Regions from separate parts of the Homo sapiens genome. Here region 1 is linked to region 2. The links come from fine-mapping of genetic effects on gene expression. A gene starts in region 2. The other region holds a variant in brackets. All regions are shown on one strand. Distances are from middle to middle.

What was found. PIP is the estimated chance that this variant, and not a neighbour inherited with it, causes the effect.
Region 1: its variant is fine-mapped to the expression of YY1 in whole blood (TOPMed, PIP 0.93).

Annotation. Positions count from the first base shown.
Region 1 is chr14:100,277,223-100,291,286 of GRCh38, forward strand. It overlaps YY1 (YY1 transcription factor), which reads left to right. Exons shown (of 5, transcript NM_003403.5): 5 at 196-5,566. The coding sequence ends at 378. It overlaps MIR6764 (microRNA 6764), which reads left to right and starts at 135; the gene lies at 135-195. It overlaps SLC25A29 (solute carrier family 25 member 29), which reads right to left. Exons shown (of 4, transcript NM_001039355.3): 4 at 13,894-14,064. RefSeq lists an enhancer at 1,111-2,091 and silencers at 7,957-8,066, 8,097-8,856. The variant G/A (reference allele first, on the strand shown) is at 4,633.
Region 2 is chr14:100,227,635-100,244,034 of GRCh38, forward strand. It overlaps YY1 (YY1 transcription factor), which reads left to right and starts at 11,510. Exons shown (of 5, transcript NM_003403.5): 1 at 11,510-12,289. The coding sequence starts at 11,611. It overlaps YY1-DT (YY1 divergent transcript), which reads right to left and starts at 10,987. Exons shown (of 2, transcript NR_189150.1): 1 at 10,837-10,987. RefSeq lists enhancers at 4,691-5,191, 5,192-5,692, 10,572-11,424, 12,262-12,421 and silencers at 10,662-11,261, 11,322-11,401, 11,552-11,621, 12,112-12,161, 12,432-13,111.

The DNA.
Region 1 (14,064 bases), 48 kb after region 2:
GGGCTCTCCTTGGGTTTTCGGGGTTGTCCAACCTGCCTGCTGATTCTAGACTATATCCACAAAGTTCACCCAGGGCAGGAATGAAAAGTGTTTGGTAAAATAAATAGGCTGTTCTCTAGCAAAGCAGTGAGCTCCTGACTCCCAGGGTCTGGTCAGAGTTGCTGAGTGGGTTGATCTCTGGTCTTTCCTTGACAGTGCACGTTCGAAGGCTGTGGGAAACGCTTTTCACTGGACTTCAATTTGCGCACACATGTGCGAATCCATACCGGAGACAGGCCCTATGTGTGCCCCTTCGATGGTTGTAATAAGAAGTTTGCTCAGTCAACTAACCTGAAATCTCACATCTTAACACATGCTAAGGCCAAAAACAACCAGTGAAAAGAAGAGAGAAGACCCTTCTCGACCACGGGAAGCATCTTCCAGAAGTGTGATTGGGAATAAATATGCCTCTCCTTTGTATATTATTTCTAGGAAGAATTTTAAAAATGAATCCTACACACCTAAGGGACATGTTTTGATAAAGTAGTAAAAATTAAAAAAAAAAAACTTTACTAAGATGACATTGCTAAGATGCTCTATCTTGCTCTGTAATCTCGTTTCAAAAACACAGTGTTTTTGTAAAGTGTGGTCCCAACAGGAGGACAATTCATGAACTTCGCATCAAAAGACAATTCTTTATACAACAGTGCTAAAAATGGGACTTCTTTTCACATTCTTATAAATATGAAGCTCACCTGTTGCTTACAATTTTTTTAATTTTGTATTTTCCAAGTGTGCATATTGTACACTTTTTTGGGGATATGCTTAGTAATGCTACGTGTGATTTTTCTGGAGGTTGATAACTTTGCTTGCAGTAGATTTTCTTTAAAAGAATGGGCAGTTACATGCATACTTCAAAAGTATTTTCCTGTAAAAAAAAAAAAGTTATATAGGTTTTGTTTGCTATCTTAATTTTGGTTGTATTCTTTGATGTTAACACATTTTGTATAATTGTATCGTATAGCTGTATTGAATCATGTAGTATCAAATATTAGATGTGATTTAATAGTGTTAATCAATTTAAACCCATTTTAGTCACTTTTTTTTTCCAAAAAAATACTGCCAGATGCTGATGTTCAGTGTAATTTCTTTGCCTGTTCAGTTACAGAAAGTGGTGCTCAGTTGTAGAATGTATTGTACCTTTTAACACCTGATGTGTACATCCCATGTAACAGAAAGGGCAACAATAAAATAGCAATCCTAAAGCAAGAATATGGCAGAACAAGATCTGTAAGCACAGTCTTATTTTCTTTTGTTGTCCAGAATACTTATAATTCTTGAGCCTCCCAGAAATTGGAAGCTAAATAAAGCAACTCAAGTTTCCTTTATTTTGCACTCAATTACAGTGATTATTGATGAAAGCGATGCATGGATATTTTAATACTTCCTACATGTCCTGACTTCTGAAAGAGAGTAGGTAACAGGCATCCCGAGTTCAGGAACTACCTCAGAACACCCCAGGCCAGGTTGGTCATAGGCTGTGATTTTAGCCCCCGGCAAGTGTGAGTGAAGCATCTGTACCACCGCGCAGGCTGAGCGCCTGCGCAGGGTAAGGTGCCACCTGGCAGTGGGGCACACAGAGGGAAGACCAGGCCTGTCCATCAGCCGGCTGCCTTCAGAGGCAGCTCCAGCAGGACCTTGGCTTGTCTGACAGGAAATGCTTGTGGTCGTTGGTTATTTGGTTTGAGAGCCCTTGTTCCTCCATCTAGTGGAGTCCTTATTAAATGCTAGCAATGTGGCAATTGAGTGCCAGTAGCTTAATTTCATGTTTCTAAATGGACACTGGGTGCAAATCGGCAAGGTGATTAGATTATTAGAAAATTCTGCTCAATGAGTACCTCTCACATTGTAACCTCTTAAATGTACGATTATAATGTTGGATCTTAGGTCAAATAACAGACTTGAGAATACTTTATAAACTGCCATGATACAGCAAAATCTCATTTATTCAAAGTGCAAACATACTGTGTGTCTTTCTGTTTTGTGTATGCTTGACTGCAAGATAAATGACAAACTAGCTAATATCCGAGATTTATTTACAAATGGCCAGGGACCCCATCAGGTGAAACACATAGCCCATTGTCTTAGAGCTTCTCCATCGGTCCTGTACAGGAGGATTGGTGACCTACTAACAGTGACCCTGTGGCTCTGTGGAATTTTGAAGTGCCTTTTGTGAATCATGAATGAAACATTTAACTTGAGACCCTTTAAAAAATTCATCCAGAATCTGTTACCCCTTGGGTAGTTTGATGGAACTGAGTTAAGCAGAAGACCCCAGCTGTTTTCTGGGTAAGCCAGGCTTTGCTGTATCTGGCAGTCAGGAGAGAGGTCAGCCCATGGTGGAGGTCTTCAGTGCCGAGGGCTCGGATGAGAACGTGTAGTTCTTTGACTTGGACCTGGGCAGCGTCTTCTATGGATGCCTGCCTTGTGAGCACCCACACCTTCCCTCCCCACTGTCGGGTTGAGTAGCCCCAGCGTGGCTGTGTTAGGAGTCCTTTGCCCAACATTGTGCTGCACTGGAGCCTGGCCCTGGCACTGTCCTCAGGACCCTGCCCAAGGGCCCACCGCAGAGCACACCTATGCTATGGGGAGCCCTGCTGGCAGCCCCGAGAGCCATGCCATGGCCTGCAGGAGCCAGGCTCCTGTGTGGATGAAGTCCCTCTTCCTCTGTGCCTTGATCCCTTGGGGGTGCCTTTGGTCATCTCTTCTGTCCTTTCCTGTCTCTGAAATAGTCATCACTCCCCTTGACTCTCTCTGTTCACGTCTTCTCAGTCTGCAGAGTTAACTTCTGTAAGGAGTTTAATCTGGGGTTCCAAGAAAACAAGTTCCTTGTTAACATAGCACTGACTTTGCAACAATAGAAAACTAACAAATGAGCAACAATATAAAGAGTAGAGGTAGTTCTCATTGGGTGTAACTTCAACCCATTCTGCTTGTGGTTAGAATTTATAATTTTGCTAACGATGTAATTTACTAAGGTTTGAAATGGTATTCTAACAGTGAGTCCATTGTCTTGAGGATTAATCTGATTTATAAGTAATACTGATAGACATATTTTCGTACATCTGAGCAGAAATAAATGCATGTTTCTAGCATATGTAATATAAAAACTCCAGAGGATAAGTTTACACTTAACAAGATGTTGTTTTCTATTTTTGAATTTCTTATTATTTCCCCCTTTTTGGTAGTGGAGTTGAGAGGGGGAGCATACTATTTGTATAAAGAACTGTCACCCCAGAGTGACATTTATTTTCCAAGATGACCCTGAACTCATGCTGTTGGTTTCATATGGTGTTTGTGTGCTTTGCCTAGATTCAAGGCCTGAGGATTTGAGGAAAATCGGGATTTTTTTTTTCCTATTTGGTTTTCATGTAAAAGTTCTAAATGTCACTTATTTTGCTAAATAAGACCCTTTCACAGGATAGTGTGCGCAATACCTGTCCGTGTTTCCAAGCAGAGTTCAAGTTCATGTCTTCACAAGTAGATGAGAGTCACTTCCAGTCGGGGGAAGCCCGCCTGAGCAGTGTTTTGAGAGTGCGTACATTGGAGGACTGCCCCACGTCCGTTTGCACTCTGCCTTGCAAAACTTACTGTGGAGACGTGTCCCAGACTGGTCTCAGACCAGAGTTTGTGGCACAGGAAAACCTGGCCCCCTAAAAAGAAGTTTTGGAATTGGAAGCCTGATAATTTCGGGAGGCTGAGGCAGGAGAACGGCGTGAACCCGGGAGGCGGAGCTTGCAGTGAGCCGAGATCGCACCACTGCACTCCAGCCTGGGTGACAGAGCAAGACTCCGTCTCCCAAAAAAAAAAAAAAAAAAAAAAAAAAGGAAACCTGACAATTCTACCCACCTCCCCCCACCCCCGACTATAGGCAAAGAGAGTTGATCACTTCCAGGGTCTCTGACTTCTGTGACCTGGAAATCAGCCTGGCTTGGGAAATTCATGTTGTTGATCTTTAATTATTTAATTATTCTTTAATAATCCTTCTATTTTCTTGACATCTGACCCCCAGCAAGAGTAAGGATCCCAGAGGTCAAAACAGTGGTGAGAGCCAAGCTGCTCACAGACACCCACTTGATGCCACAGCCATGCCATGAGGCTTCCTCCCAGCTGCTCTGCTGGCTTGCTGAAGCCAGCTCTGAGTCACAGGGTTGCCTTGGACCCTCGGCTGTAGGGGGCACCTGTCTGGCTCCGGGCCCTTTGTCCTGGATACACTGACAGTAATGTGAGCGCAGCACTTCAGAGTTCAGGCCCAGCAGGTCCTGGCAAGTGCATTCCACCCGAACTTTTAACCCAAGCGGTGGGGAAGGAAGCCAAAACTCCAAGCTGCACTTTCTTGGGGTTCTGGCCATGCACTTCTTAGCCTTCTCTCTGACTTTACAGGACAAAAGGTACCCCACGCCTTCAGAATCATGCTTACCTGCACGGCAGCATCTGACTGGATGGCTGGCTAGGTCTCATCCACCCCAAATTACTGACCCTTGATTTATGTTGTTACTGCTCAGGTTATGCTCAGATGCCCTGGTTGCCTGAAGATGGTTTAAGTGCAGGCCCTTCAGACAAGTCACGTCAGGCAAGAGAGGGCTGGCCTCT[G/A]ACCCACAAGAGGGCAGATTTGTGGCCAAGAGGCTTCCTGGCATCCACCCCCAGGCCCAAGGGATCAGTGTGGTGCCAGAGAGGATCTTTAAGCTGGGACTGTACTGAGGCTTGATGGGAAGTATGGGCAGCATGTACTTGACACGTTATCACCCAGTCCCCTTGTAAAATCTGGAATGGAGCGTTTAAGCTGAGCGTTAGCATCAGGTCAGCAGGCAAAGCAAACCTCCCACAAACTGGGTGCCGTAAGGTGGGAGGTGACACATGGAGAGCTTCGTCCTGGCCGAGCAGGCACCCAGCCCCATGTCCCCCGCCAGCATTCTGGATGTCAGAGGAGGGTGCGTGTGATGGCGTCACATTCATCTGAAGCACACTGATTGATTTTCCACAAGGTGGCAAGTTTGATCAAATTGACCGCTTTTCATGAGACACCCAGATGCTGTAAAAAAAAAAAACAGCACTGGGATGTGTTGAGGAGGGGGCAGTTTGCTGTGCTCTGTTCTGTCTGCTGCTCTCTCTGGGGGCCGCACAATGTCCGCACACATCACGGAGGGGAGAAAGGCATCAGTACCAAACGGAACAACCTCTTTTTTCTACATTGTCCATACCCGGACATGTGAGGCTCTATTATCAACAGGTGGTGAGAAAAATTATGTTTTTATTCGCTTTCTGGTAACTTCTGTAGGCCCTGGCTCAAGGACTTAGCATTTCGTCTCATGTACATCTTTTTCTTAAGTGTTCTTTGCCATTTCTGGAATTGTCCTTGGTTTTTCCTTAGCTCATAGGTCATAGATGCAGAAATATAGTATTTAAGGCATCCGCATCCAGCATCAGATGGCTTTGCATCCAGAAAAACATTGATAACTCAGTTTGAAGCACCAAGCATGTGTAATATGGCTCTATACAATATAATAAATGCATAATGTTAAGCTTTTTAATGCCTGTGGTTCTTGTTTGTTCCTCAGTCCTCTAAGCCACTTCTTTAGTGTTTCACTGCACATGAAACCAGGCCATGAGCCCTTCCTGGTCTAAGAGTTGCCTAAACTGCCCGGGGCAGTTCTTGCGGCTTGCTTTCTCACACACAGGACTGGGAACTCCCAGGATTTGGTCTCACACCAGCAAGAAATGCTTCTGTAACCTTTCAGCTCCAAGGTGGGCTCAGGAGCAAGAGGGCGTTTTAAAGAGAGCCTCACCCACTGTTCAGAAAGCACAGCCCAGTGAAATGCCCACGCAGCCGGACCTATGAGCCCATGTCAGCCCTGGAAGCTCCGGAGCTAACTGGGATGGACTCGGAAGAACTTGACCAAATACACTGAGAGCTACTTAGGATTTAGCCAAAAGCAAAATGCAGAGCAGAGCTTCCTCCCTCTGGTTGGGGCCTTGGTGTCTGATGTTCTGCAGAGCAAGGTTCAGAGTGAGGCGTGAAGTTCATTATTACTTGAATACATGTGACTTTCCCTTTTTGCTAGTGACAGAAGGGGCTGCTGACAGAATGCTACTGAGGTGGCAAGTCGCAGGCCTGTGCAAGCCCAGAACTGCTGAGTGAAGGCCCTAAGTAGGGCTGAGCTGAGCAAGACGGTGGAAAACCTGTAGATTTTACATGGGAAGGAACTAAAGCTTTGGAATTGCTTTTTTTTTTTTTTTTTTTAGATGGAGTATTGCTGTGTCTCCCAGGCTGGAGTGCAGTGGCGCGCAATCTCAGCTCACTGCAACCTCTGCCTCCCGGGTTCAAGCGGTTCTCCTGCCTCAGCTTCCTGAATAGCAGGAGGTTGTGTGTGCCACCATGCCCGGCTAATTTTGTATTTTTAGTAGAGATGGGGGTTTCACTATGTTGGCCAGGCTGGTGTTAAACTTCTGACCTCACAATCCACCCGCCTCGGCCTCCCAAAGTGCTGGGATTTCAGGCGTGAACCACCGTGCCTGGCCTGGAATTGCTTTCTTTAGAAACCCCTAGATACAGATGAAACCAGTATCTCTCCTTTATACTTGCCGGTGTCTCTGCCTGGCTATAATTTTTTATTTTATTTATTTATTTATTTTTTGGTAAGAGACAGGGTCTTGCTATCACCTAGGCCGGAGTGCAGTGGCACGACCATAGCTCACTGCTGCCTTGAATTCCTGGACTCCAGTGGTCCTCCTGCCTTGGCCTCCCGAGTAGCTACGATTACCGTGAGCCACCATGCGCAGCCCATAACATTTGTTGAGAACACATATGTACCCAGTGGCCTCCTCCAAACCACCCTTTGATGAATTAGCTAGCAATATCACCATGCTGTAAGAGAGGAACAGGCTCAGATTTATTTGCAAAGTCCAGGCAGCCAGAATTCAAAGCCCAAGCCTGCCTGGCTTCCAAGGTACTCTGCTTGCCACTGGCTCCTTAGCTTGAATTCTCCTCCAGTCCCCTTTCAAAAAAGCCCTGGCCCTTGTTTATGGAGCAGTGCATCGGCCTCCCTGGTGTGCGGCCCTTTCTGTTCTGGCGCAGTGGTGCCTCCTGGCCTTGGAAGGGTCCTCAGGGCTCCCCGACTGCCCGCCATTGTGACCGTTCCCCTCGGTCCTTGCTGACCTCCCCACACGGCCTTTCTGCTAACAGGGTCTCAGCACGTGATTTGAACTGCAGCGGTTCCCTACTTCCTACCGAAAAATCCAGTCCCGCCGACCCTCAGAGCCCAGTCCTGGCTTTATCTCATTTTTCAGCCTTTCCTAATGGATCACCTCTTGTCCTGTCCCTCCCCTCCCTCTTGGAGTTTTCGTTTCCAAAGCTTACCTCTCCACCTCCAGGGGCCCTGATTCGATCAATGCAATTATGTGCCAGGCCCTGTTTTAGGCAGGAATGGCATTGCCCTACTGGCACTGGCATGACATCTGGAGGAAGGAGGATAAGGCTGTGATAAATAGGGGCTAGGGGCCGGACGCGGTGGCTCATGCCTGTAATCCCAGCACTTCTGGAGGCCGAGGCGGGCAGATCACCTGAGGTCGGGAGTTTGAGACGAGCCTGACCAAAATGGAGAAACCTCCTCCCTACTAAAAATACAAAATTAGCCGGGCGTGGTGGCGCATGCCTCTAATCCCACCTACTCGGGAGGCTGAGGCAGGAGAATCGCTTGGACCTGGGAGGTGGAGGTTGCTGTGAGCCAAGATCGCGCCACTGCACTCTAGCCTGGCGACAGAGCGAGACTCCGTCTAAAAAAGCGGGGGGGGGCGGGGTAGCTAGGGAGGGAGAGGAGGCAAGGAGGCAGGACGGGGTCTGAGCACGCCCCTCAGGTGTTTGCATGGCTTCTTCTTGGCCTGCCACGTGCGTCTGTACCGGACCCTAGGAATATCCCGGGAGCTGGTGGCCAGCCCTAGCCCCTGCCCGCCTGGCCTTTGGCCAGCACTTAGCGCGGGCAGCCCTGCCCGCCCCCAGACCCTTCTGGGGACTTGGGCCGCGCCTTTGTCCCAGCCCTTCCCTGCCACCCTGCAGTGCTCCAGGGCCTGTCCCCCACGCTGCTCTGGCGGGCGGCCCCGGGGGCTTCTAGACCTGCGCCTGGGCCCCCACCCGCAGGGTGCGCCGCCGCCGCCGGCCGCAGGAGGGCACTGTGCCAGCGGGCCCCGGGGCTGGGCCGCGTCCGCTGTGGGGAGGGGCTGCGCGTGCGCAGCGCGGAGCGGCCCGGACCTCGCGGGGACCCGAGGCGCGGTGGGGGCTGTCCAGAATCCCTGAGTGTGGGGTCCCCGCGAGCCGCCGCCGCTTACGAGCGTCCCCCGCGCGGAGTGAGCCCAGGGCCACGGGGGCGCGGAGATTCAGAGCCCGAGAAACGCGGAAGGAGGCTGCGTGCACCCCACCTGCCCGAGGCCTCGGGCGGAGGAGACTCCCGCCGCCAGGGCCACAGGGACACGGGGCAGGGCGGTGCGGCGGCGACGCCCGAGGAGGGAGGGGCCACATACCAGGGGGCCCCAGCTAAGCAAGGCCCTGGGACGCCCCCCCTTCCCCCCGGTGGAGCAGCGCCCCCTGGAGGGCGGGGTGGGAGAGGCTGCGGTCCTGGGATTAGGGGGCGGGCCCGGGAAGCGGGGAGACAGGGCCTTGGGGTGCCGGCCCAAAGGGACGTCCTGGAGCCCTCCAAGCTGGGGATGCTTTTCCTCTCCCCACGGAGAGCTCCACCACGGGCGTGGCGGGGGCTCCTACCATCACCCTGCCTGTAGGTTCTGGAGCCACTCCGGCCGCCCCAGCCCCTCTCCAGCCCATCACCGCTTCACCCTCTGCCCCCAAGCGTGTTCTGGCCTCACAGTGTACATTCCGTCTTCCCTGGCCCGTCTCTGTATTGCCTGGCAAAACCCAACCTGGCCCTGTACTCAGCAGCCTCTGCTCTCACCCATTCATTCACTCATTCATTCAGCATGCTGACTTTGCACCCCTGGCCCTCATGGAGCTAAGGTAGAGGTTGGGGAGATAAACAAGAAACCGGCCAGTACTGTCACAACACCAAACAGAGCCCACCATGTTCCCCTGTGTCTGCTCTTTGTCCTGTGTCCTCACCATCCCCAAGGATATTCAAGCCAGATTTGAACTTACTCATTCACCCAAACTTTGTGGGACATCATTACAGCTGGCGTGGTGTTGGCTGGCCTGGCAGAGCATGGCTGGGGGGGGGGGTGTTGCTTGCAGAGGGGCGCTGGTGGGGGCGTCTGGCATTCCCCACGATCCTGGGGGAGGTCAAGTCGGAGGAGAGCAAGGCTGAGCAAGGAGCCCCTGGGGCACAGGCCCATTCCCCTCAGCCTCTGCCCTATCTCTGCTGTGCCCTGATCAAGGTGGACACTGGCCCCACCGCCTTTCCCAGTTCCCTGGGAAGTGGCCTCTGGACCCAGCAATGCATCTGCCTCTCCGTGGGTAGGTGGGTACCATGAGGTCAGGGGTGTGTAAGAAGCAGCAAGGAAGCTGAGACCCAGGAGCATGGGACCTGGACCCTTGCCCTGGCCAGGCCCCCTCTGGTTCTTGCATTGCCGCTCCAGGGTTGCCTGGCCCCAGCTGATCCTGCTGAAGGGCAAAGGATGGGCTGACTGGCTCCTGGCGCTGGCTTCAGCACCAACTAGCTGTGTGGCCTTGGACAGGGACCCTCCCCAACTGGTACCCTGCACTGCAAAATGGGGGTGCCAGCACCGACCTTGTATGGCTGTTGGGAGAATGAAGGGATGGGTGTGCATAGGGCTGAGCCATCCCTACAGTCACAAGAACCCACCCAGCACAAGGAGGGCTGGTGAAGGTCCCAGGTCAGTGTGGCCTCACGGGTGCTTTTTATAAGAAATGACTCACTAAAGGCCCAGGCCAATGATGAGAAGGGCACAAGGAGGCTTATGCTCCATTCACTCCATGCACCTGATGTCCAAAGGGATCAAAAGAAAAGGGAAGGGGAAGTCTGTGTGTGAAGCCAGTGTGGGCTCTGAGATTGGAAAAACAGTTTATCAGATTTGGACTCCCCAAACTGCCACTGCTTTGCCTGAACTCTGCACCAAGGACCTGAGCACCAGCCCTCACGGGGCCTGCCCCCTTCTCTCTGCCCTTCCACGCTTTAAGCCTCCCTCCCCCTTTCCCACCCCAGAGACAAATGCCTTGGCAGTGCCGTTTCATAGCCCTTTCCCTTAAGGGGTCAAGGAAGGAGCCATAAACTCCAGATCCCTGCGGAGTTCAGACTCTAGCTCCTGCCACATAGTTTCGCCTCCCTTGACTGCACCCTCAACACCTCCAAGGGCTTCTTCTGCCGTTTATTCCCCAGTGGTCTCGCCCACCTGCCACTGGAGCACCACCCCCCCCCTCCGAATTCCTGGCCTCAAGAGGTCCTCTGGCTTGGACTCCCTCATGGCCTCTGCCCCCCACCCTGGCCTGCCTCTTATTGCCTCCTAACCTCCTGTGGGGTCTTCAAAACATAAATTGGATCCTGTCACTCCCCTGGGTAAAACCTGCTCACAGCTGCTGATGCAACGAAATAAAGTCAGCTCTGCATGGCGGCTGGTGGTGCATTTGGCTGCAAATGACAGGAATAGTGTGCTGAATGAGAGGAGTGTGACCAGCCTTCCAAGGCCAGGCTGGCTCAGTGGCTCACGGCCGTGGTCTCTCCCACTGCACCTCCAGGCATCCTATTCCCTTTTCAGTGGGAAGCAGAGAGCTAGGTCAGAGACCAGAGGTCAAGGGGTGTGCCACAGTGTGTTTTACCTGTTTCACAGCTTTCTCAGAAGCTGTCAGACATATGGCCAGCTCCGGCCGCAAGACAGTCTGGGGGCCAGGCGCGGTGGCTCATGCCTGTAATCTCAGCATTTTGGGAGGCTGAGGCGGCGGATCACCTGAGGTCAGGAGTTTGAGACCATCCTGGCCAACGTGGTGAAACCCCATCTCTACTAAAAACACAAAAAATTAGCAGGGCATGGTTGCTGCGCCTATAATCCCAGCTTCTCAGGAGGCTGAGGCAGGAGAATCACTTGAACCTGGGAGGTGGAAGTTGCAGTGAGCCAAGATTGTGCCATTGCACTCCAGCCTGGGTGAAAAGAGTGAAACTCTATCTCAAAAAAAAAAAAAAAAAAAAAAAAGACAGTTTGGGAAGCTGTTTTGATTAGACATACTGAAGCCCAGATCAAGTTGAGATTTCAAGAGCAGTTGGCACTTAGGAGGATCTGCCACTGTCCCCAAGGCACTGCCATGTGACCCGCCCTGGTGGCCCTCTTGAACGTCTGGCCCTGCTGTCCTCCAGGCCCTGCCTCACCCCCCTCCCCAGCCCCCACCCACCCCTTCCACCTCGGGACCTTGGCTACATCTGCCCTTCCAGCTACAGCCTAGTGGTATCTGTGGCCCCGTCCGCTGCTGCTCTTCCTCTAGGACTCTGCTCAGACGTGTCCCCCAGTTACTCTCCCAAACCTGACTGGAAAAGCAAATCAAGCAAAGTTTATCCAATGAAATATGCCATGCAGCTGTCAGCAGGAAGGAGGACCATTCAAACACACCAATACAGAGCCCTGTTGAAGGTTGGATTGTGGCCCCAGAAAAATCCGTTCAAGTCCTAACTCCAGGCAACTGAATTTGGCCTGATTTGGAACCTGGTCTCTGCAGATGTTTTTAGTTAAGATGAGGTCATACTACAGTAGGGTGGGCCCTTAATCCCATATGACTGGTGCCCTTATACAAAGAGAAGACATGGAGACACAGACACACAGGAGAAGGCGGCAAGAGATGGTGGCAGCGATCGGAGCGATGCTCTTGTGAGCCTAGGGAGCCAAGGATTGCCAGCTGCCCCCAGAAGCTTGGAAGAAGCAGGGAACAGTTCGTCCCTCAGAGCCCCCAGAAGGAACCAACCCTGCCTGCAGCTGGAGTGTGGCCTTCAGAACTCTCAGAGGACACTTGGCTATTGTTTAGCCACAGTGTGTGGTGTTTTGTTACGGCAGCCCTAGGAGAAGGATGCAATCTCCAGGATCACTGTCAAGGGAAGACAGCAAAGAACAGAACAGTCAGGACCTCGGCCACACTTTGTAGGGGGTGCAGATGTCCCTCCGCTGCTCCATGCTGGCACTTGCCCAAGATGTGTTGGATGCCCTCTGGGAACTGGAGACTGTCCTCGACTCAGGAGGAGAGGCTGGCCCCTGGGAGGTGGAAGGAGGTTTTCCTCTTCACTGCACAAGCCTGGATTCTGGTAGTATTTTTAGTTTTTAGCACTTCATATATCACTTATTCCAAATCAATTGAAATCAGAGGCCGGGCGCAGTGGCTCACACCTGTAATCCCAGCACTTTGGGAGGCTGAGGCGGGTGGATCACTTGAGGTCAGGAGTTTGAGACCAGCCTGGTCAAGATGGTGAAACCCTGTCTCTAATAAAAATAGAAACATTTGCCAGGTGTGGTGGTGCACGCCTGTAATCCCAGTTACTTGGAGGCTGAGGCAGAAGAATCACTTGAACCCGGGAGGTAGAGGTTGCAGTGAGCTGAAAGAGCACCACTGCACTCCAGCCTGGGCAACAGAGCAAGACTCAAAAAAAAAAAAAAAAAAAAGTTCAAATCAGGGAGAAAAGAAAATGTAAAATAAATTCATTAAAAACAACAACTCTACTCCCTGCCTGGCAGATGTGTTGGTCATGTGAGGCCGCTGAACTGGGAAGTGGGAGGGAGCTAGAAGCCCCCCGCCCCTTCACCTTGCTCCTTGCCGCACCACTCCTCACTTCTGAAGGGCTGGCCTGTCTGTGTGCTGTCCCCAGAGGGCAGGCAGCCGCAGGGTTCGTGGAGAAGCCCCAGGGTGAGCAGGGCTCAAATTAGTTCCTGACAAGGGTCACGTTGGGGCCTTTCTAGAGAGTGCAGATGTGTGGAGAGATCCAGGGTGATGGGGACCACAGCCACAGGCCACACTCAAGCTGCCCTGAGAGATTCAGCCACCCAGGCCTAGAGAGGCAAAGGGGCTGCCAAAGCTGGACATGGAGGAGCTAGGGAAGGGGCCCCTCTCTGTGCCCATGGCCAGGGTGTTTCCCCCATCCCTGGGAGCTTCCCCTGGTTTATTTCAGAGTAAAGAGAAGCGAGAGAGGCCAGGAGACCCCAGGGGTCAACAGCCAGCTTCCTCCCCGCCTCCTGCCTCCCTGTAAAGCCCAACTTCCCAGGCTAGCACTAGGGTTAAACAGGCACAGGAACTGGGGCCCCTCCCCGACTCCCCCTTGTCAGTGGGCAGAGCTTCTTGGCTCAGCACTTGGGAGGGAAAGCCTCCAGGGCTGGTGGCTGCAGAGGCTCAGGATGCCAAGGGCTGACTCCAGGAGGCTGAACAGAACTGCAGGTGAGGTGGGCAGTGAGACCCCCACACCACACCTTTGGCAAAGCTCCAGGATGCCCTCTTCCAGGAAGCCCTCTCTGACCTCCTAGTTTGGGTTAAGTACAGTTGTGCCCAAGTTGCCCGGGTGGCTGAAATGGTCAGCTCCACTCAGACCTCCCCTCTTCCAGGAAGCTGTTTTTGGGACACACCCTGCCCCTGCTGCCCCGCCCGCCAGTGCCCCTCACCACAGGCCTCTCTCTCTCATTGCTGGGATGATGATAGCAGAGGGGCATCTGCTGAATGGCCAGGCTGCACCAGCGTGTTCACGCCCTTCATTAGCTTGCCTTGCAGATGAGAAAACAGGCTCTCAGATGTATCCGCAACTGCCCAGGTCACATGGCCAAGGCTGCTGTCAGGGTCCAAGGGCACACGCACCCCTGAGCTGGCCCCTTCGACTCCAGGGCAAGGGTGCTGAATGAAGCCCTTTCCTCCACCATATGCAAAGGCAGCCTCGCCACTTAAAAAACAAAGAACACTTTATTCCCTTGACAGTTTCTGTACAGCGACACCAGGCTGTGCAAAGCCCAGTGTCGTCTTCACTGAGCACATTCCCCAGGACGCCTGGTGCAGCCCTCCTCTGCCCCAGGCCCCAACTAGCCACCCCTGTGCCCACTAGCAGGCCCTGTGCC
Region 2 (16,400 bases):
AGGCATCAGAAGATTTCTACTCTATATCTGAAAAGAAAAAAACTGAGGCTCTGTAAGGAAAGAACATTGGTTGTTGAAAGAGTAGTTGGGGTTGGGTATGGTGGTTCACGCCTGTAATCCCAGCACTTTGGGAGGCTGAGGTGGGTGGATCACTTGAGGTCAGGAGTTAGAGACCAGCCTGGCCAACATGGTGAAACCCTTTCTCTACTAAAAATACAAAAATTAGCCAGGCGTGGTGGCACACGCCTCTAGTCCCAGCTCCTTGGGGGGCTGAGGCAGGAGAATCACTTGAACCTGGCGGTATAGGTTGCAGTAAGCAGAGATCTTGCCACTGCACTCCAGCCTGGGTGACAGAGGGAGACACCATCTCAAAAAAAAAACGAATAGTTGGGTAGGCAACAAAGTGACTGCCACAGGGAATGCACACACACGCACATGATATACAATAGTGTATCCAACTATTTCCCCTAGGTGGTTTCTAGAAGGTACTTATGACACATAACCCAGATTTTACTAAGTTTAATGTTGAAAAAGCACCCCATAAAGTGTATATTGATCACACATCTGAATATCTCTAAACCATAAAATGGAGTTAACAGTACCTACACCTCACGGCTGTGCCAACTGAATGAGTTAATATGTGTGCTTAGAACAATGCCTGGCACATGGTAAGGGCTACATGAGAGTTAGCTGTTATTATTAATATCAAGCTGGCAGGTAACAAATATGTTGAATGAGAGTCAAGACACGCCCCCCCCAACATCAGTAGGTTCATATGACAGATATATCTAATAAGATGAAAATGTACACATTACATTTATTATGTAATAAGTAAGCTACTAAATTTGGACCCTAAAAGAACAATAGTCCAAATATAGGATGAGGAGATGTGACTTAAGAGCTATACATGTGTGAGGGCAGTGGCTAGTTTGTGACTCTGAACACTGGAAGAGATGGGTACTAATGAATCTTTTCAGCATGAACTCACTGCTGGAAATGGCTACTTACTGGAGGCCATGGGTAGAAGCCACTTCTACCACTTCTGGTAGACGCCAGAAGTGGAACAGTTCTATTCTCCATCTAGGAAGCTTTGCATCTAGAGTTTAAAGGTTTGAAGAAAAAAAGGGATAAGCAGAGTCCAAGGGAAATTACTACTTAATGGCTAGAAGAGGTATGTGTGAGCACGTCTATAAAACATCCCTAACTACCTGTAACACAGATTGCACACTGTTCCCTGCTAACGACTGGCTTAATACATCAATCAATAAGACTGGAAATCGTTGTTTTCTATGGACGCTGAATCTGAGCTTGTCGAAATGATTTTCCCAAAACACAGTCTACTTCAAGGATTTCCGCAGCACTAACTCCTTTTGGAATATCCCTTTGAGAACATAATTAGAAATATATATCACTTTCATGTAGTTTGGGGCAAGCAATTTCCTTACCTTCATCACATTATAAACGAAGTCCAAGACTGATTTTTCATTGTGTTTGAAATGGATTTTCTAGAATTATGTCTAATTGCCAGATATCATAGAGATTAATAACACTCAAAAGTCTTAAGGACAAGTAAGCTAAAACTGAGTTCCCAGAGAGTCTGATTCCTTTAAGACTGTGAAGACACTGTTTAGCCAGGTTGAGAAGCATCTTCCCATCATCCCCAACTCTCCGGGCTACAGTGAACAACCATTTATTTAACACTTCACATGTTCCAGACCCAGAGTGCTCAGAACCACAGTGAGCTACAAAAATGCAGAAGAAACATCCTTTCCCCCAGAAGCTTCCAACCCAGTTAACTATCTTCAAGTGATTAAAATAAGACAGCTGACTATTAAGTTAGAAATATTACATGCTATAGGGAAATAGAGCAGGAAAGGAATGAGAAGAAATTCCTTTTAACTGCAGGATCTGGGCAAGCCTTTAGTTCAGGCAGGATCTGAACAGAGTAGAGAGGCAGGTGGATGTGAAGAAGGCATCCCTTAGTGGAGGGATGAAAAATGGAGGGATGTATTCACCAACAACGAAGCGTCTGTGACTTCAGTGTGTGCGTGTGTGTGTGTGTGTGTGTGTGTGGCAGGTGGAGGCTGCTCAGAATAGTGCAGGGGGGAGGGAGAAAAACAGTAAGAGATGAGGAAATGTATTTAGCACCTATTACATGCCAGGAGTGTTGTACGTTATTTCAATCACACTTTATAACAATATTGAACAGTAATATTCCTTTTTTACAGATGAAGAAATTGGCCCAGAGAGATTCAGAAACTCCTCTAAGATCATTTAGCTAGTCAATGGACTAAATAGTCAATAAATATTCAAATCAGGTCTTTTTTCTTTGCCATACCATGTTTGCTTAAAGCCCAGCTAAGGATTCTGGACTACCCTACAGGCAATAGGTGGTGAAGGAGGGCAGAGGCAGTAGCATCAGCAGGTATCTCTGTTCACATAGGGCCCACCGTGTGTCCAGACTGGGCTGACTCTTTTCCCTCTGGAAATAAGAGGCAAATGAGACACCCATCCCTGCCCTCGAAGAACCTCGTGTGCTTTTGTGGGAAAATAAAAACATTAACGGACACATGTATTAAAATGTAAGGACACACGTATTATAATGTAAGTACAATGACAACAATTTGGGGAGAGTGCTATGGAAACACCCTTCCAAGGAAAGTGTCCTAGAGAGGTCATCCAGGCTGTCCTGGAAGAAGTATAAAGTTGAAGAAGGTGGGAAAGGATATTTTAGGCAGAGGAAAAGATCGCTCTGAAAACAAAGATAGGAACTGTCATGGTCCACACACCTCGAGGTAATAGGAAGGACGGGGAATAAGGCTGGAAGGCTTGGGAATGCCTTGCTGAGGAGCTGAAGCCCTGGGAAGCCCCTGAAGACTTTGATCAGGGCAGTGATACGGTTACATGCTAATGCTAGGAAAATCCAGGAGTGCCTTGGGGAAGGAAGACTGGAGGCAGTTAGAGCAGCTGGTCAGCAGAGGTGAGGGGAGAGAGCCAGAGCCCGTGTGAGGACAGCAGTCACAGGCATGGAGAAGAGTTGGGTTTGAGAGATACCTAGGAGGCAAACACATCAGGTTCTGGAGGCTCAGATTTTAAAAGCTTATCACTAATATACCAAATCTCTTAAAAAAAAAAAAAGAAGAAGAAGAAGAAGAAGAAAAAAAAAAGGTCTGGCTAGCAATGTGTCCTCATCTACCCTAAGAAACTAAGTGAACACTGGGTCCTGTCTATAAGCATTAGTCCTGAAGTCAGCAGTGCCTAAATGCAAAGAACAAACACAGATGCTAAGATGTGAGTGGGCAGGCCAGTTCACCTATGAACAAGGGTAAGAAGGAAACAGAACCAGTCCTGGAGAGTACAAACACTGTGCCCTCTTCCTTAATTTGCACACCTGATTCAAGTATTTTACTTACCCTTACAGATTTCTATAACTCCTGAAGACTGATATTTTTATTCGTTTTATTTATTTATTTTTGAGACAGGGTCTCATTCTGTCGCCCAGGCTGGAATGCAGGGGCGTGATTTTGGCTCACCACAACCTCTATCTCTCGGGTATGAGCGATTCTCCTGCCTCAGCCTCCCAAGTAGCTGGGACTACAGGCATGTGTCACCACGCCCAGCTAATTTTTTTGTATTTTTAGTAGAGACGGGGTTTCGCCATGTTGGCCAGACTTGTCTCAATCTTCTGGCCTCAAGTGATCCACCCACCTTGGCCTCCCAAAGAGCTGGGATTACAGGTGTGAGCCACTGCACCCGGCTTATTCCTGTTTTACAGCTGAAAAAATGACAAGTTGATTAGTTACAAGTTTTTCTGATAGTTACACAGGTGATAAATGGCAGAACCAGGACCTGAACCCAAATTTGTATGACTCCACGTTCTGTTCTTCCCATTTACCAGTTTTGCAGCTAAGAACCTTTCTAATTCCCTTGGCAGCTGGTCTACCTTCCAAGGCCCAGAACTCCAAAACAATTTCCACTATCAACCCCCAAGTTCAATGGGAACTTGGAAGAAATGGCTTATAAAAAACAAGTAAAAATTAAAAAGTAGGACCTAATCTTAATCAAGTGCCTAATGTTAATCAACAGCCATCCTCAGCAGCAGTTTCAGTGAACTAATTTGTTGATTTTCCAAGGCTAAATACAGCCCTTTTATACTGAGCGCTCTGAGTTTATTCAAAATATTTACAGATCTATCACCTGATTTATTTTATCTACTCCTGTTTCACACAGATATTAACACTAAAAAAAAAGCCAAACACTGGGATGGGCACTTCTTGTTGTGTTCAACTTTCAAGTCACAGTTGAAATGTCCCTTTCTCATGAAGGCCTTTACCTTGCGAGGCTAGGCTAGATTCTCTGTCCCCAAACTCTCACTTCTTTGTAGGACTTCTATAAATGAATATTAGGTATGGGCTGGGCGCGGTGGCTCATGCCTGTAATCCTAGCACTTTGGGAGGCCGAGGCAGGTTGATCACTTGAGGTCAGGAGTTCCAGACCGGCCTGGCCAACATGGTGAAACCCCATCTCTACTAAAAATACAAAAAAATTAGCCGAGTGTGGTGGCGTATGACTGTAGTTCCAGCTACTCAGCAGGCTGAGGCAGGAGAATCGCTTGAACCCGGGAGGCAGAGGTTGCAGTGAGCTGAGATTGTGCCACAGCACTCCAGCCTAGGCGACAGAGAGAGACTCTGTCTCAAAAGAAAAAGAAATTTTTTAGATATGTATTTTTGAACTATCTGTTCACAGCCGAAGTCCCTCTGGCCTGTAGACTCTGTGAAGCCAGGCTTGCTTGTCTTGTTCTTGTTCACAGCTATATCTATCCTTTGGGCCTTGCACTGCAAGTGCGAGGTAAATGGTGACTGAACAGCTGGTCTCACCTAACTCCCTGTGGGGCGTCACTCCTTTCTGACAAACAGAAAAAAATTCCTATCAGAAAGGTTACTGCCCAGTTTCACAGAGAGGACAAGTTAACTCCCAAATCACATAAGCTCTTCCCACTCCACCACGCTCACCTGCCTCACACACACAAATACCTGAATCGACTTCCTGTATTTTCCACACTGCAATAAATGTGCTTCTGTGAAAACCAGTGTGGCTATGAAAGTTATCGTGGATTGGCCGGGCACGGTGGCTCACGCCTGTAATTCCAGCACTTTGGGAGGCCGAGGCGGGTGGATCATGAGGTCAGGAGATCGAGACCACCCTGGCTAACACGGTGAAACCCCGTCTCTGCTAAAAATACAAAAAATTAGCCAAGTGCAGTGGCGGGCTCCTGTAGTCCCAGCTACTCGGAAGGCTGAGGCAGGAGAATGGCGTGAACCCGGGAGGTGGAGCTTGCTGTGAGCTGAGATCGCGCCACTGCACTCTAGCCTGGGCGACAGAGCAAAACTCTGTCTCAGAAAAAAAAAAAAAAAAAAAAAAAAGGACGTTACCATGGATTAAAGAATTTCTGGCCAGGCTCACGCCTGTAATCCCAGCACTCTAGGAGGCTGATACGAGCAGATCCCTCGAGCTCAGGAGTTCAAGACCAGCCTGGGCAATTTGGCAAAACCCTGTCTCTACAAAAAATAGCTGGGTGTGATGATGCATGCCTGTAGTCCAAACTACTTGGAGGGCTGAGGAGGGAGGATCTCTTGAGCTGGGGAGGTTGACGCTACAGTGAACTGAGATCCTGCCACTGCACTCCAGCCTGGGCAATGAGTGAGACCCTGTCTCAAAAAAAAAAAAAAAAATTCCATTCTGTTTAATTGTGCATTCCATATTTGTTGGGATGGGTGGGCAGTAGGAGCAACTTCAGTACAATTAAGTTGATTTAGCTTCTTCTTTGGAGGGACGTTATACTAGCAAAGCAGAGAAAAACAGAGGCTAATCTATTACTAAAGATTTCAACTTTCTTTATATTTATGGGCAATAATCAGGTTCAATCATTGTAATAAACCACTTGGCCTAAGAAAAAGAATTTAATTAAGGTCTTATAAAAGGACATAAAATACTACATAAAGGGTGCCAGCTTTATAGACGTGAGATTTCACCTATTAACATATAGTTAGGAGGCTGGGTGCGGTGGATGGTGCCTGTAATCCCAGCACTTTGGGAGGCCAAGGCCGGTGGATCACTTGACATCAGGAGTTCAAGACCAGCCTGGCCAACATGATGAAAGCCTGTCTCTACTAAAAATAAAAACGAAATAGCAGGGCGTGGTGGTGCGTGCCTGTAATCCCAGCTACTTGGGAGGCTGAGGCAGGAGAATTGCTTGAACCCGGGAGGCGGAGGTTGCAGTGAACCAAGATTGTGCCACTGTACTCCAGCCTGGGTGGCAGAGTGAGATTTCATCTCAAAAAAACAACAAAAAAACCCCATATAAACATATATAGTATATAGTTAGGGGTCGGGTACAATGGCTTATGCCTGTAATCCCAGCACTTTGGGAGGCCAAGGCAGGTGGATTGCTTGAGCTTAGGAGTTTGAGACCAGCCTGGGCAACATGGTGAAACCCCGTCTCTACTAAAAATAAGAAAATTATCAGGGCATGGTGGTATGCACCTATAATCCTAGCTACTCAGGAGGCTGAGTCAGGAGAATCACTTGAGCCCAGAAGACAGAGGTTGCAGCAAGCAGAGATCACACCACTGCATTCCAGCATGGGTGACACAGTGAGACCCTGTCTAAAAAAAAAAAAACAAACAAACACAGGGTATTTCACCATAATTTAAACTCCAAATCTAATATATGCATTGATTTGGTGGGAAAGTATCCCTTTAATAGCTCAGGTTTCAAAGACTCCACAACCAAGAAGGTATCTATAGTTTAGACAGTTAAGAACATGTACATACCTAGTTTTTCATTTAACTTGGATCCAAACTAGGGGTAACTAATTTGGATGCATGCACAAAAATTTTCATTCTGATTTTTGTAAACATTTCATTGAAAACTGGGCGTGGATGTGAATTGGAACAGGATCACACTACTGAAACTTACATAGGTTTTGCAGTCTCACAAAAGGCAGGAAAGTCAAGCTCTCGCTTTTCACCTCAATCACTACCTTTTTACCACACCGCCATGTGACGTTGAGCACATCTCCTAGGTAGTTTCCTTGTCTGCAAAATGAAATGTGGACTAGATGCCCCATCTGGCTCTAACAGTCTCAATACTGTAACTGATGCAGAGCACCTATTTCCTTCCTACTTGAAGGAACTGCAAAAGAACTAAACATTAGAACCACAAAGCAATTTCATGAGGCAGCCAAATTAGTTCTGATAAGGAAAATTATTTAGCATGAGTTCATGACTTGAATCAATCCCAATCTGTTAGAGATATAGCTGAATCAGATTTAATAGCCTCCCTGTAATCAATAAAGGAGAACACACTGTCTGGACTAGGCAAGGAAGGAGAGGTATCAGCATCTCTTAATAGCCTTTATTCTTCTGCTTACTCTCACTCCTCACCCTCCTTCCTTGAACCCAAGTTTGAGTATTTAATGAAAGTTTCAGAAAATGAATGAATGGGAAATGAGGGAGGTGAGGAGATGGCAAAGGAGTTGTCAGCTGACAGTCCACATCTTTGTCCTGCTGCTGTGCTGAGAAGGTAGTCAAAGGAATATTACTTGTAGAATATTTGTCACTGCATCTCCTCAGCCATTAGTGAGCTCTGATTTCTTGGAGATTCTAGAAAGCTCTGCACAACTGTTGTGATGTATCTAATATTATTTCTTCTATAGTTGCTGATGTTCAATTTTTTTTTTTTGAGATGGAGTTTTGCTCTTGTTCCCCAGGCTGGAGTGCAATGGCATGATCTCGGCTCACCGCAGTGAGAATCGCTTGAGCCCAGAAGACGGAGGTTGTAGTGACTAAGAAATGGTCAAGCAACATCACACAGAATTCCCCTCTGCCATGGTACTTTAAACTTCACGTTTTTGCATGAATCAAAAAGCAAGTGATCGCCAGGCGCGGTGGCTCACTCCTGTAATCCCAGCATTTTGGGAGGCCGAGGTGGGTGGATCATTTGAGGTCAGGAGTTCAAGACCAGCCTGGCCACCCATGGCAATACCCCATCTCTAATAAAAATACAAAAATTAGCCAGGTGTGGTGGTGCGGGCCTATGGTCCCAGCTACTCGGGAGACTGAGGCAGGAGAATCGCTTGAACCCGGGAGGCGGAGGTTGCAATGAGCCAAGATTGCGCCACCGCACTCCAGTCTGGGTGACAGAGCGAGGCTCCATCTCAAAAAAAAAAAAAAAAAAAAAAAAAGCAAGCTTCACGTACAAGGCATCACTTCATGCACAAGGCACTGAGCTGACAAAGCCATGGCCTTTGCTCAGATAGGGTTGAGAGACAATAATCAATTATTGCCAAAATAAAAGGACTCTAGGAATTCAGAGGGAATCCCAATGCATTTTGTACAAACAGAACAGAATAAAAGTAGGGAGGCTAGGTGCACTCCAGCACTTTGGGAGGCCAAGGCAGGAGACCAGACTGGGCAACAGAGCCCTTAAAACCTCATATCCAAAAAAAAAATTTTTTAATTAGCTGGGCATGTGGTGGGGCACCTGTAGTCCTTAGCTCTTTGGGAGGCTGAGATGGGAGGACTGCTTGAATCCAGAAGTTCAAGGCTGCAGTAAGCTATGATTGTGCCACTGCACTCTAGCCTGGGAGACAAAGCTAGACCCTGCCTCAGAAAAACAAAAACAAAAAAACCCACAGCAGTTAAATTTATCCTCACTTTTATTACTATTTTTTAGAGACAGAGTGTCACTCTGTCACCCAGCCTGGAGTGCAGTGGCGCGATCTCGGCTCGTTGCAACCTCCGCCTCCTGGTTTCCATTAACTCACCTGCCTCAGTCTCCTAAGTAGCTGGGTCTACAGGCGTGCACCACCACGCCCAGCTTATTTTTGTATTTTCAGTAGAGACGGGGTTTCACCATGTTGGCCAGGCTAGTCTGGAACTCCTGACCTCAGGTGATCCACCTACCTCAGCCTCCCAAAGTGCTGGGATTATGGGTGTGAGCCACCACGCCCAGCCTATCCTCACTTTTAGAATCCCATGATTCTGAAACTGCAATTTGACCTGTCCTTTTAAAATAATTTTTACCTTTAGCAAGTGCAAGCAAGCGAGAGCCACACGACACATTATCTTTGCATGTCTAGTCATAAGATACTCCACCGTTAAACAGTAGAAAACAAGAATATCTCCCACTAGAAAAACTTAAGGCCTAACAGGTCACCTCCTATGGGGCAAGTTTAAAAAGCTATTTTCTGGAGCAGGTACTAGGATGGCCTTCAGGAGCATTTTAGTGCTTTCTGACCTACTACCTTTCCTCAAAGCTTTCAATCCTTTTGGGCTTTCTCCACTTGAATGTGAACACCTACAGATCTACAGCTCAGAAACCAGGATGCTTAATGGGTAATTCCCTCATTTCTCTTGCTCTCACAATTGGTGTTTATGGGGAAGTATCAACTACTTGCAGTGCCATTTCCCCATCAATTACTAGAGAGTGGGGAAAGTGAAATTTAAAAAGCATTAAGACATGTAAAAGTTCTCCCACAACTGGTTTCCATTCATGAAATATTTATGCAGAGTTTATAAGCTATAAAGCCAGAGATGACTTAATTCAACAGATTTGACTTTTCCAAACTGAGTGGGTGCAGTACTCCAAGGGGAATTATTCAGGTTTCAAAGCTCAGATTCAAAGAGAAAACGATCTAATTTGTCACTCCTTACACTAATATTCTCAAAAGTCAAGTCCAATGCGATTTAGCAATAAGAAGGGACTAGGATTTATAAAGTTGCCTTTTAATGAGAATGTATAGTCTACTTGTTTTAACAAGTTGAGCCTAAGATTAATGTATTGCGTACAGTTCAGAAAATCATGGGCCTCAACTGCATGAACACTATTACAAAACAGTAAATGTTGATAATATTTAAGTTGAACAAATTCACAGAGGCGTTAAATCGGCCAAACGAGTACAACAAAGACACACCTTTCCAACTCTTCAATTTGTCATAGTTTCCTTAAAAATCAGGAAATCTTTGTTTTGCTTTAAGGCAAATTGTCAGGTCGACCAAAAGGACAGATAAGAGCAGAAACACTTCGCTGCAATGTAACTCATTCAGGAAGGTTTAACTTGCCGCTAATCCGTGCCACAAAAAAAAATCTAGGCTCTGTTGCAGGTACAATGGAGGACACGGCTGAAAAAATTTGGAATTTTAAATGAGACAAATGCAAAACCTGGTGGGCGTAAAAAGGAGCACCTATGAAAGTGACAAATAGGGGGAAAGGGTGGGCAAGGGAAACAATGGCTGACTGGAGAGCAAAGAAGGGGAAGCTCAGGAGAAAATTTTAGAAAGCCGCCAGGACCCTGTAGTTCTAAGATCTACGGGGAAACAGGCACCCAACGGCTGCGTCTCAGGTTTCCGCGGGTCACTAAAGAATAACGGACATCCTCCCAACGGTGGCCCTGGGGCTCCGCGGGCGCTTCCGCCGAGCTCGCGCCGACCCCGCGCTCGGCCCCGCACCCCGCCGGGCGCTCGCGGCGAGATACCGGACGCTGCCCGCGTCGCCCGATTTTGTCCGTTCGGTCCTCCACACTCACCCCGCGGCCATCGCTCGCCCGAAGCCAGGCGACAAGAACAAACACCTCCCGACGCGAAAAAGGAAGCACAGGCGATTCTCGTCAAAGCAGACTTTATTGGGGCGACAGGGCCGCCCCGCACGCGCCAGCCGCTCCCCGCGCGGCCCCCGGGCCGCCCACCCGCCTCAACCCCGCTCCCGGCCGGCCCCTCCCTCCCTTCTCCTCAGGCTCCCGCCCCCGTGGTGCCCGGGGCCGCGCGGACCGCTCACCGGCTCCCAAGGCAGCGGCTGTAGCGGCGACGCCCCGTTCCCGAGTGCGGCCCCGGCCCGAGGCGGCGGGTTTTGTGGCTGTTGCACCGCGAAGGGCGGCAGCCGCGCGACACCGGGAAGCGGGAGGCGGTGGCGGCGGCGGCGGCGCGCTGACGTCACGCGCCGCGGGCCAGCCAGGGCGCGTGCGAGCCGCCCCGCCCCCGGTCCCATCGGCCCCAATCCGGGAGGAGCCCGGCGAGTGGGCGGGGCCGCGGAGGCCAGCGGACAGATCGATTGGCCGAGAGGAGAATCGAGAGGGCGAACGGGCGAGTGGCAGCGAGGCGGGGCGGGCTGAGGCCAGCGCGGAAGTCTCGCGAGGCCGGGCCCGAGCAGAGTGTGGCGGCGGCGGCGAGATCTGGGCTCGGGTTGAGGAGTTGGTATTTGTGTGGAAGGAGGCGGAGGCGCAGGAGGAAGGGGGAAGCGGAGCGCCGGCCCGGAGGGCGGGAGGAGGCGCGGCCAGGGCGGGCGGTTGCGGCGAGGCGAGGCGAGGCGGGGAGCCGAGACGAGCAGCGGCCGAGCGAGCGCGGGCGCGGGCGCACCGAGGCGAGGGAGGCGGGGAAGCCCCGCCGCCGCCGCGGCGCCCGCCCCTTCCCCCGCCGCCCGCCCCCTCTCCCCCCGCCCGCTCGCCGCCTTCCTCCCTCTGCCTTCCTTCCCCACGGCCGGCCGCCTCCTCGCCCGCCCGCCCGCAGCCGAGGAGCCGAGGCCGCCGCGGCCGTGGCGGCGGAGCCCTCAGCCATGGCCTCGGGCGACACCCTCTACATCGCCACGGACGGCTCGGAGATGCCGGCCGAGATCGTGGAGCTGCACGAGATCGAGGTGGAGACCATCCCGGTGGAGACCATCGAGACCACAGTGGTGGGCGAGGAGGAGGAGGAGGACGACGACGACGAGGACGGCGGCGGTGGCGACCACGGCGGCGGGGGCGGCCACGGGCACGCCGGCCACCACCACCACCACCATCACCACCACCACCACCCGCCCATGATCGCTCTGCAGCCGCTGGTCACCGACGACCCGACCCAGGTGCACCACCACCAGGAGGTGATCCTGGTGCAGACGCGCGAGGAGGTGGTGGGCGGCGACGACTCGGACGGGCTGCGCGCCGAGGACGGCTTCGAGGATCAGATTCTCATCCCGGTGCCCGCGCCGGCCGGCGGCGACGACGACTACATTGAACAAACGCTGGTCACCGTGGCGGCGGCCGGCAAGAGCGGCGGCGGCGGCTCGTCGTCGTCGGGAGGCGGCCGCGTCAAGAAGGGCGGCGGCAAGAAGAGCGGCAAGAAGAGTTACCTCAGCGGCGGGGCCGGCGCGGCGGGCGGCGGCGGCGCCGACCCGGGCAACAAGAAGTGGGAGCAGAAGCAGGTGCAGATCAAGACCCTGGAGGGCGAGTTCTCGGTCACCATGTGGTCCTCAGGTGAGCGCCGGCCGCGCGCCCCGGCCCCGGGATGTTTTTGTTTTGAAGGGAAGCCATGTTTTATGTGTGTGATGGGCGCCGCCATCTTCTTCGCCAGGGCAAGTATGGCGGCCCCAAAAGATGGCGGGCCGTGCGGCGGCGGGGGCGCGGCGGCGGCGGCGGGCGGCGGGCCGCGAAGATGGCGGCAGGCCGCGGGGGGGAGGGGCCGGCGCCGCCCGGCTAGGCCGCAATGGCGTAGTTTCTCCGAGAGGGGGAAGCGCCGCGCGGGGCGGAGACGGCCGGGGGAGGGGCCGGCGCGCTCGCTCCCCGACGCCCTCGCTCCCCGCGCCCGCATCAACGGGCGCGCCCGCCGGCCCGTTGTGGCGGCAGCTGCGCGCCCCCGGCCCGGGCGGGACGCGGGAGGTCGTTGGCGGGGCTGCGCCGCGGCCTCGCGGGCCAGGGATTGCTGCCTCCGGGACGCGCGCCCCCGCCCCCGCCCGGCGCTGCCGTTACCCCATCGGCCGCTGGAGGGCGCCGCGGGCGCTTGCCCCGCCCGCCCCCAACTTCCCCGGACTCCCAACTGCTCCCCGGTGGCACCTTCCAGAAGGAGGGGGCTTGGCACTCGTGGGCGCCCTCCGGCCTCCTTGCTCCCCGCCCACCCAGCGCCGGGCTGGACCCTGCCCCGGCGGTCACGCTCGCCCAAGTCGTCGTTTGCTGCGGGGCGGGACTTGGGGCTGCACGTAGGGCTCGCGTGTGCGGGCTCCGAGCGTCAGTCGGAGCCTGTCACCGCCGTTGCCAGCGAATTCCTGGCCTTTTCGCCTTCCTGCGGTACCTAGTGGAAAGGGCCTGTGAATGTTAGCGAATAATTCTTAGTCACTTACGTTTTGGGAAAGCTTTTTTTTTTTCCCTCAAGTATTTAGCTCTTCTGAATAGGTTGGGTTAGTTTACTCAACTGTGGACATTTGCCAGTAAATAAAATCGGGTAGTTTAATTTTAAGCCTTTATGGTTTTTACTTTGTAGAAAGGTATCTATTTTCCCCATGAAAAGAACGATAATAGAAAGCGGGTTTTTTTGAGTTTTGTTTTACTGTTTTAATACTACTTTTAACGAAGGCCTGAAAACCATCTAGAGCAAAAGGATCTTATCTGCCTGTGTAAAATCTGTTTTTACTTCAAAGGCAATTATTAATTCAATGCTGGTTTTTTAGGTCAGTATCCTATTAGTATATTCATATGCTACCTAGCTAAATTGCTGAGATACTAAATAGACTGAGAATAATCCTGCCATCGTAGTTAATCTAATGCCTGTGATGATTACGTTTAGTACTCCATATAAGCGGTGGAACCTCTTCCCTATAAGTACTTTAAAGCTTCATAAATTCTCAGAACTGAATGGAGACTCAAAATATGGTGACCTTTGAGTATTAAAAGATCGTTAAAATTCGGAGGAATGAATGAAACAGAAATGAAAAGGCTGGACTGAAAAAGCTAGTTTGTATCTGGTGAAAGCCTCAAGATGAGACAACTACAGCTGGGTGGATCTGTGATTGAAAGAGGCCTGAGCAAAGGGATCTAGGAGCTGTCAAAATCTAATAGGAAGGTGCTAACAGGCGCTGTCCTGCATCCAGGGTGCCTTGTAGAATTCATAGCAGTTTGAGTTTAGCAGAAACTATGTTTAAATGAAACATGAATACTTTAGTACTTAATGGTTATCAAAAGATAATTTCCATGTATTTTGGTAGCTCAAGAGATTACATACTGATCATGTTGGAACTAAAAGTCATGGTTTTGGCCGGGCGCGGTGGCTCACGCCTGTAATCCCAGCAGTTTGGGAGGCTGAGGCCGGTGGATCACTTGAAGTCTGGAGTTCGAGACCAGCTGGCCATCATAGTGAAACCCCATCTCTACTAAAAATATAAAAATTAGCCAGGCGTGATGGCGGGAGCCCGTAATCCCAGCTACTCGGGAGGCTGAGGCAGGAGAATCGCTTGAACCCAGGAGGCAGAGGTTAACAGTGAGCCGAGATTGCACCACTACACTCCAGCCTGGGTGACAGAGCGAGACTCTGTCTCAAAAGGGGGGGGGGGGCATTTTTTTTTGTTAATACCAATGAGTAAGGGATGGGGGTTTTAGTTATTGATGAATTTGCAGAATTCAGAATACGATTTGAAATAAGATATTTAGGTAAAGATACATTAACCACAAAAGTAAATTTACTTTTTCTCATAGTGTGTGGAATTAGAGGAATTTAGAAAACCGACATATTTTTACATGATCTGCATTTTATCTTAACAAATTGCTGGTCCACTTTTCCACATCCAGAGAAGCTGGTAGTGTACGGCTTTGCTTGCTGAAGTGGTATGTATGGAGTCAGCCAGTTAGGGGAGAAAGTCTGAGGGGCTTGACTGATGGAAGTCAATTTACAATTAAGTGAGCATTTACAAGTGTGCAAGTGGCTGTTTTGTTTTGTTTTTTGTTTTTTTTTTTTTTTTTTTTTTTTTTTTGAGATGGAGTCTCGCTCTGTCGCCCAGGCTGGTGTGCAGTGGCATGATCTCGGCTCACGGCAAGCTCCGCCTCCCGAGTTTACGCCATTCTCCTGCCTCACCCTCCCGAGTAGCTGGGACTACAGGCGCCCACCACCACGCCCGGCTAATTTTTTGTGTTTTTAGTAGAGACAGGGTTTCACCATGTTAGCCAGGATGGTCTTGATCTCCTAACCTCGTGATCCGCCTGCCTCGGCCTCCCAAAGTGCTGGGATTACAGGTGTGAGCCACCGCGCCCAGCCAAGTGGCTGCTTTTAAGGTGGCACAGTTTGGGGTTGTTTTCACGTCCGTTTCTTTTCTTCTCTTTTCTTTTTTTAATTTGAGACAGAGTCTTGCTCTGTTGCCCAGGCTGGAGTGCAGTGTCACGATCTTGGCTCACTGCAACCTTCACCTCCCGGATTCAAGGGATTCTCATGTCTCAGCCTCCCAAGTAGCTGGGATTGCAGGCATCCACCACCACCCCTGGCTATAATGTCCATTTCTTTAAAGCGCTGGTTGTCTAGCTAGTGTGGTAGAGTACGCTGTGCATAAGGGTAGTTATAAATATTTGATGGCAGTAACATAGGATGGCCTGTTTCTCGGACATGTGTTTTGTGGTAAACTATCCCCCTTACTTTTCCTTGTGATTTGGAATTATTACTAAAGAGAAGCTAAAGAGCTTATGGATAACTCTGCATTTCCCAAGCTGAAATTCTGAAGGTGATTTCATCTTCAGAACTGAAATGACGTGATATACTCAGTATAATTCCATAACAAGTGGAGAAATGAAAGTGGGTTAATTGTTGGGTAAATCTGTATGTATGTGTACATATGGGTTGAGCATGGTGGGCAGCATTACTGCTTTCGTGTACTTGATCTCATTTGATCCTAGGCATGAAGGTTTTAACTACACTTTAGTTTCACTAAAATAGCCCCTTAGTTTGGAATGAACTGTGAAGTAACAGTTTTGCATAAGCCCCAAGCTGAGTTACTTGAAGTCCTTATAAAAATAGTTGTACATACAGGGTATTCCCCGAGGGTCTAGTTACTTCTTAGACCCTCTTGGTTTAAAAAGCAAAAAGATCAGGCTGGGTGCAGTGGCTCACACCTGTAGTCCCAGAACTTTGGGAGGCCAAGGCAGGAGGATCGCTTAAGCCCAGGAGTTCGAGATGAACCTTGGCAATATAGTGAGACCCCGTCTCTGCAAAAAAACAAAAAACCCCACAAAAATTAGCCAGTCATGGTAGCACATGCCTGTAGTCACTCTCAGCTACTTGGTAGATTGAGGTGGGAGGATCTCCTGAGCCTGGGAAATCGAGGCTGCAAGTCAGCGGTGATTACACCACTGTACTCCAGCCTAGGTGACAGTGAGACACTGTCAAAAAAAAAAAAAAAAATTGGCCGGGCGCGGTGGCTGACGCCTGTAATCCCAGCACTTTGGGAGGCCGAGGCGGGTGGGTCACGAGCTCAGGAGATCGAGACCATCCTGCCTAACACGGTAAAACCCTGTCTCTACTAAAAATACAAAAAGAAATTAGCCGGGCGCTGTGGCGGGTGCCTGTAGTGCCAGCTACTCAGGAGGCTGAGGCAGGAGAATGGCGTGAACACGG